2 linked regions of the Homo sapiens genome follow. The protein of the gene in region 2 purifies or fractionates together with the protein of the main gene of each other region. This does not show direct contact. Each region holds a gene or a part of one and is shown on either strand. Other genes may lie near its edges.

Region 1 (4,239 bases), about 180 Mb from region 2:
GCTCATGCCTCTCCCTCCACACCTCCCTGCAAGCTGAGGGAGCCGGCTCCCGCCTTGGCCAGCCCAGAAAGGGGCTCCCACAGTGCAGCGGTGGGCTGAAGGGCTCCTCAAGTGCCACCAAAGTGGGAGCCCAGGCAGAGGAGGCGTGAAGACCGAGAGAGGGCTGTGAGGACTGCCAGCACGCTGTCACCTCTCAGCACCATCTCAGCTCACTGCAACCTCCGCCTCCTGGGTTCAAGCGATTCTCCTGCCTCAGCCTCCCAAGTAGCTAGGACTACAGGCGCCTGCCACCACACCGGCCAATTTTTGTATTTTTAGTAGAGACGGGGTTTCACCATGTTGGCCAGGCTGGTCTCGAACTCCTGACCTCCCGTGATCCACCTGCCTCAGCCTCCCAAAGTGCTGGGATTACAGGCGTGAGCCACTGCGCCCGGCCCATCCAGCTAATTTTTAATTTTTTTGAGAGATGGGGTCTTGCTATTTTGCCCAGGCTAGTCTCGAACACCCGGTGTCAAGAGATCTTGCTGCCTCCGCCTCCCAGAGTGCTGGGATGACAGGCGTGAGTCACCACGCCCAGCCTAGACACAGTTCTGAAGGGACAAAGGGGGCCTCCGCTCCCTCCTTTCAATCTTCAGCTAGGCCAGGCTCCCACTTGGGTCCTCCAGCCCTCAGTTTCCCCCTGCACCCAGCCAGGCCAAGCTGCAGAGGCGCCCGGCCCAGAGCTGGGAAGGGGCGTGGCGGGACCCGCGCTTGCAGCCGCGGGACGGAAGGGGGCGCGAACCTCCCCGCGGCGGGGCCTGGGGGGGCGGGGCCGGGAGGGGCGGGGCCGCGCCCCGTGCTGGCCAATCAGCGCCCGCCCCGGCACCGGGACCCGCCTCCGCGCCGCAGCTCCCGGGGGGTCCGGCCCGGCCGAGCCTCGGTGTCCGGCCCCGCGGGGGAGGGGCGCGGCCTGCGGAGCGGGATCGGGGCCGGGTCTGGGGCCCCTCCCGGCGGCCTTCGAGCCCTGCCGCCCGGCTCCGCGCCGCCCGGAGCCCCTCGGCAGTCCCGTCACGTCTCCTCCAGATTAGGCATTAACTCGGGTGCAGCCGCACTTCCGGGGGGCCGCGGCGGGGGAGGGGCGCCTGCGGGATCCAGACCCGCCCCCCACTCTCCTCTCCCCGCCCCCTCCCGGGCCGCCCCTTTCCCGCCCCACGGCCGCGCCGGGCGCTGCGTCCCGGGGCTTTGTTCGCGGCGGCGCGGGTCGCCGGCCTCCGGGCGGGCCGGGGGAGGGAGGAGGGAGGGGGCGGGAGGGGGAAGGAAGGAGGAGGGGGAGGAGGAGGGCGCGGGGAGGGGGTAGGGGGGCGGGGAGGAGAGAGGGGGAGGGGCGCCGCCCTGGCCCCGCCCCCCCCCGCCCGCCCGCCCGCGCTCCGCCGCCTCCGGAGCTGCGTCCCGTCCTGTCCAGTCCCGTCCCCGGCGCGGCCCGCGCGCTCCTCCGCCGCCTCTCGCCTGCGCCATGGCCGGCCGGTCCCACCCGGGCCCGCTGCGGCCGCTGCTGCCGCTCCTTGTGGTGGCCGCGTGCGTCCTGCCCGGAGCCGGCGGGACATGCCCGGAGCGCGCGCTGGAGCGGCGCGAGGAGGAGGCGAACGTGGTGCTCACCGGGACGGTGGAGGAGATCCTCAACGTGGACCCGGTGCAGCACACGTACTCCTGCAAGGTGCGCCCACCCGGACCCCGGCCTCCCCTCGCGACGCCTGCCGCCCCGCCGGGACCCCCGCCCCAGGCCGTGGGAACCAGCCCCGGTCGCTCCGCAGCCCCCGCTCCGGCTCCCTTGGCGACCGCCAAGCCCCGGGAGGGGGGGTCGCCGGGTCCCGGGAAACTCGCGGGCGCCGGGGAAAGTTGCTGCGCCGCCGCCGTCCTCCGCCCGCCGCCGCCTCCCTCCTCGCGGAGACAAGTGCACCTCGCCCACGGACTGCGGCTGCCGCGCGCCCTCCCTACCGGCCGAGAAGGAGAGGGGCCTGGGGAGGGGGGGCCTTTGCCCGGGCGGGGAGCGGGGGCTGGGCCTGGGATCCGCTTGTTCCCCTCCCCAGAGGCCTTTCCCGGGGCGAGAGGGGTTGGTCAGGAGAGAAAAAGGGGCGCACAGCCTGAGCTCCCAACCCCGGGAGCCAGGTGGGGGGTGCCGCAGTGGTGCGGGGGGGGGGCGTGCAGGAGCAGAGAGGTGGGCGGGGCCGTCACCGGGCCTCGTGTGCTTGGGGGCAGGGCCGGTGCCCCATCGCGCTCCTGCGGGAACCGGGGCTCCCCACCCCGGGGAGGGGAAGTTTCCCTGGTTTCTCCTTCAGGTGCTTCTGGGAGCCCCCGGGGTAGGTACGCTGGGACCCCCACCATCTTCTCCTAGTAGGGGCTCGGGGGACCCAGAGCCGGCGCCCGTGTACCCCCAAAACCATCTCCTGGGACCAGAAATCCACTCATTTCCCTCCACGGAGGTGGAGAAGGTGGCAGCTTCTTTCAGACTGGCCGGTGCGGGCTACAGCTGGGCTCCCCCGCCGGCCCAGTCTCCTCCACAGCGGCCAGGGCACTTTGCCAGGCCCCTGCAGGATTTTCCCGACTTCCTCCCCGCTGCTCCTGGGTGTGGCTGGGGTGGGGGAAGGCGATGAAAGCCACCAGGCCCTCCCCCTGCCTGGGTCATCTGCCTCCTGGAGCCTACTGTTGGGGGGCGTGGAAGAGGCTCTGCCTGCGCAACTGGAGGGGGTCCCTGCGGATGCCGCAGTCCTGAGGCTCCCAGCAGGGGCTGCGCAGTGGACAGGCCAACCATTGTCTCTCCCCCCATCCGGCAGCCCCAGCCCCCCAGATCTGAGGAAGGGGCTGCTTCTCCCGGCTTTGTTCTCAGGGGAGTGCGTGAGTGCGTGGGTCCCTGTCCCCGTGAGGGCCGCCAGGTCGGCTGTAGCCTTTACCACAGGCCACCGTCAGAGCAGCTGCCCTCAGGGCCCCAGGAGCTGAGAAGGTGGAGGGTGGGGCACCCTGCACTGCCCAAACTTGATTTCGTGGTTCACAGGCTGCCCTGAGTGCACAGACTGTAGAAGCCCGAGGAAGGGGCGTCTCAGCCCAGCCACAGGGCCAAGCTGGCCCCTTACCCCAACGCCCCATCCCCCTCCTCCACTGCCCAAGCTTGCTGGGAGGTGGGCCCTGAGCACTGGGCAGGTGGGGAGAAGTGTGGAAGGCAGGCACCCCAAGCCAGGTGGGCCCCCTTCCCAAATTCGGCCTTAGCTGATAGGGACGTTATTGGAGCTGGGGTGGCTGAAGTTGGTTAGACCTGGGGGAGGGGATGTGTTCACAGGTGACGCATCTCTGAGCGTTCCCGCATGGGCTGTGGTGGCCAGTGTGGGCTTCCCCCAGCTTCCGCCCAGCGGGCTGACTCAGAGGTCTCCCCACATCTCTGCCCAGGGCTTGAGTCTACTGTGGACATTTGCCCTAAACACCTAAAGCCCCCAGTCTAGCCCCTTCCCCAGGAGAGGACTAATGACACCTACCGCCATGTCCACCCCAGGTTCGGGTCTGGCGGTACTTGAAGGGCAAAGACCTGGTGGCCCGGGAGAGCCTGCTGGACGGCGGCAACAAGGTGGTGATCAGCGGCTTTGGAGACCCCCTCATCTGTGACAACCAGGTGTCCACTGGGGACACCAGGATCTTCTTTGTGAACCCTGCACCCCCATACCTGTGGCCAGCCCACAAGAACGAGCTGATGCTCAACTCCAGCCTCATGCGGATCACCCTGCGGAACCTGGAGGAGGTGGAGTTCTGTGTGGAAGGTGCGTGGTGGGGGGCTCGTGTGGGGGCCTGTGGGGGTCAGGGCAGTGGCCAAGGGGGACAGGTTGCAGGGGTCGCTGTGCGGGGTCCTTTCGTGCTGTGCCGGAGGCTGCAGCACACGGTGTCTTGTGGTCCAACCTCATTCTCTGCTTCTCCGTCCCTGGCTCCCCAGCTGCATCTCCAAGCCCTCACATTAGACATCTTTGGCCCTGGGGCCCAAGGCAAGTCCCAGCCCTGCAAACAGATGGCCTCCTGCCTCCTCCCCTCCTCCCAGCTCTCCATACTTCCTTCTGGAGGCCCCTTCTAGGGAGAAGCTGGACAGGTGAATGTCCCCAGCTGTTCAAGCCCCTGTGTTAGCCCAGACCTCCGTCTAGACGGGCCCGCGTGTCGAGCACTCCTCGCCGTGGAGATCGGGCGGGAGGGCGAGGCTGTGCGGCGAGGGCTTCTGCGGATGTGGAG
Region 2 (3,500 bases):
TTTTATTCCTTGAACTGATAAAATTATTAATGATAATAACCCATCAATATCCTGAAAATTATTATGTTTTTTAATTTAAAAATAAGTTGTGGTGTTCATAGATTCAGTCTTCATAGGCAGAATAATAAAGCATAAAATAACAGACCAACATGGAGAAGCCATATAAAGAAAATCTCTTCAATCCATTTGTAAGTAGTTTGTGCAAAGAATAAACACAAACAAGCCGAGACTATTCCTGTTTCCAGTAATCTGTTTGAGTATAAATTTTGACATGTAAAATAGAACACCGGTAAATCTTTGTAAGAGCTTTTTTAAAATTTAGAATTAGTGACTATATATTTTAAAGCTCTGCAATTGATTAATCAAAATTAACTGAGACTGGTTTCAACCAAATAGACTAATATGACCATGTTAATATTTTGCAGAATATTAGCAGAAGAAGCAAATATATTTGGTGCCTTAGGCTGCTGACTTTCCCTAGGGCCTTGTGTTTCTTTGGTTTCTCAGGACCCAGGAATGATTTTTTTCAGTGTATCCTTTGTTTTGTAATAAAATAACAAGGTTTCTAAATTACAGGATTTTAGAGCTAAAAGGGAATTTAAAGATTATCTACCTTGTTTTTCCAGGCAAGGAAACTAAGGTCCAGAGGGGTTAAGCCACTTGTTTAGGAATATGTGTATATGTCTCTTGAGCATGTGTAAGCATTGAGAGTCCGGTCACACTGTGTGATCCTGATGAAACCATTTCTTCTTTTAGCTAAGAAACATCTGAGTTTCTTTAATGTTAGAGAATTGGACTTGATTTCTAAGCTCACAACCCCCGTATTATTTAAGGACTCATCCAGCTCTAAAATTCTGTGTTTTTAAATGGTTTTATTATGTTTGGTATATGAAGAGGACAGAACTTAACAGGAGTATTAATAGCATCCTTTAAAATTAATAATATCCTTTCAAAAATTTTTGATATTTTGATCTGTGAATAAGATGTTAACCCAGTGAAACTCTCTTATTTAACTTAAAAAGGGATGACGATGAATTAATTTTTTATTGCAGGATTTTGGAAAGGAGAGGTTCTGCATGAACTACACTTCCATTATATTCAGGTATAAGGAGACATTACCATAACATTATTAACGATTTTCATTTATAGAACTCTCCCATGGGAACACTTGTGTTACAGGCTTCAGTTTCCCAAAGGTATTATGTTGATTAGGTAGGTTTAACTTGAGTTGCTGCAACTTGTTTGAAATATCCAGTTTGGCCACCCGATGGGGCACAAACCACACTTTTTCTTTCAGACACTTTTGTAAATCAAAGTATAGTATAGTGTGTTTAAGATAACACTTGTAAATGATTGCGTCAATGAGATGGTTGGCATTTACAAATGTTTCTTAAGTGAGTGAATGAATGTTGTAAAGACAGGAAGCTATAACTATTCTTTATCATCTTTAAGTGTGTCAGCGTGAGTATGCTGGAAAGATTATACTTGTCCGTTTATCCTGAAGGTTGGTTTTGGATCAGCTTTTGGGTGAAGGCCCAGATCATAAGAACCTAAGAATCTTATTTGACCTGGGGTGACCATGGAAACTTAGTCCTAGCTTCAAATTCAGTCCTAATCTGGGAAGCATTTAAGAGAATGATTGAGTTGTGCTGGGTAAGGATTTCAGGTATATTTGAGTTGTAGGCCCCAAAGGAGTGTGCCCAAAACTCCCATGGAGTAAAGAGAAGACAGTATTAGAAAAGTAAGGGGGCTGGACACGGTGGCTCACGCCTGTAATCCCAGCACTTTGGGAGGCCGAGGCAGGCGGATCACTTGAGGTCAAGAGATTGAGACCATTCTGGCCAACATGGTGAAACCCCATCTCTACTAAAAATACAAAAATTAGCTGAGTGTGGTGGTGCATGCCTGTAGTCCCACCTACGCGGGAGACTGAGGCAGGAGAATCGATTGAACCGGGGAGGCGGAGGTTGCAGTGAGCTGAGATTGTGCCACTGCACTCCAGCCTGGCAACAGAGTAAGACTTCATCTCAAAAAAAAAAAAAAAAAAAAAGGAAAAGTAAGGGAAGACAGAACTGTTAATTTTACTTATTTTTATGCATAAGAAAAGGAAGAAATACAATTTTACTAGTATTTAATAAATGGATTGATGCAGTACCCCTGCTAAGGAGGTCATGCACAGGTATACTGAAGAAAACAGAAGGATTGCCAGTGGCTTTTTCACTTGTTTGTTCGCTTTGGCAGATAATCATTAATCCAGTTATGGGTGCATAATTAAATGAATCTATAAATTATTATCTAGTTTTAGCCAAATCAACCGCTAGGAAATAGACATGTCTTAAAAAGACTCCTGTAAAGATTCCATAACAGTAATACCAATAATGCAAGCACAAGTGAACAACAAGAAAATGACAACAGAGCTGAGGTTTCTCCTTCTAGTACTAGCTTTTTGGCAGCCAAATTACAGATAAAAACAATAACACTTTAGTAGACTTGACAAGAAGTTCGCCAAAAATTTAAAAATTATTAAGCTAATTCTTTTTTCTTTTTCCTGAGACGGAGTCTTGCTCTGTCACCCAGGCTGGAGTGCAGTGGCCTGATCTCAGCTCACTACAACCTCCGTCTCCCAGGTTCAAGCCATTCTTGTGCCTCAGCTTCCCAAGTAGCTGGCATTACAGGCGCGCGCAACTACATCCAGCTAATTTTTGTATTTTTAGTAGAGACAGGGCTTCACCATGTTGGCCAGGCTGGTCTCGAACTACTGTTCTCACGTGATCCGCCTGCCTCAGCCTCCCAAAGTGCTGGGATTACAGGCATGAGCCACCACTCCTGGCCTAAGCTAACTCTTTGAAGTAAGGTTTTACATCTACTGTCAGTCACAATGAACTTGACTGTAAGTGTATATATTATGAGTATTCTGCCTTTGTAAGGTCTGTTTTTTCAGTTTATAGCCATTAATTAAGTTTCAAAATCAAATGAATCCTGAACTTTGAACTGGACCTTTGAAACACTGTATCATAAAATGTTAAATGAAGGTTTTATTTATTTAAAAAACTTTTTTGTTTTTTTAATGAAGATTAAAAAAATGAAACTTTTCAGTTATGTTCTCTCAAAGCATTGTTATTGATAATTTCTTAGATCAAAAATATTTTTGTACTGTTCATAAATGAAAGGTAGAAATTATTTCATCCTTGTGTCATCTTTTTAAAACTTCTATTTTAAACAATTTTGTTTTACATTGTACACAGATACAGATGGGTATAATTAATAAATAAATATGCATATATTGGAGATACATAATAAAACTTTTTTTAAATAGGGATTTGACATAATAAAAGTTTGGAAGACTTTGCCCAACTTGTACAGATTAACCACAGCTGGTTTGTGGGTTGCCTGGTATTGAGGTGGCCTTTGGGAATGAGAGAGTGTCAGACTTCACCAGGGTTCTTGCCCAGTGTATTTGCCTTTTCAGGTCTTTCCTTATCTAGTAAATGCTAAAAGAA

The links. Proteins that work in one complex are often made in the same cells at the same time.
Region 1: the proteins of XPR1 (region 2) and AGRN purify together in Homo sapiens (affinity purification with mass spectrometry; one large-scale study listed by BioGRID and IntAct). This does not show direct contact.

What each region holds. Positions count from the first base shown.
Region 1 is NC_000001.11:1,018,681-1,022,919, forward strand, and holds the start of AGRN (agrin isoform 2 precursor), read left to right. Parts: upstream 1-1,439; 5' UTR 1,440-1,492; coding exon 1,493-1,693; intron 1,694-3,520; coding exon 3,521-3,782; intron 3,783-4,239. UniProt on the Homo sapiens protein: Isoform 1, isoform 4 and isoform 5: neuron-specific (z+) isoforms that contain C-terminal insertions of 8-19 AA are potent activators of AChR clustering.
Region 2 is NC_000001.11:180,635,022-180,638,521, forward strand, and holds part of XPR1 (solute carrier family 53 member 1), read left to right. Parts: intron 1-3,500. UniProt on the Homo sapiens protein: Inorganic ion transporter that mediates phosphate ion export across plasma membrane.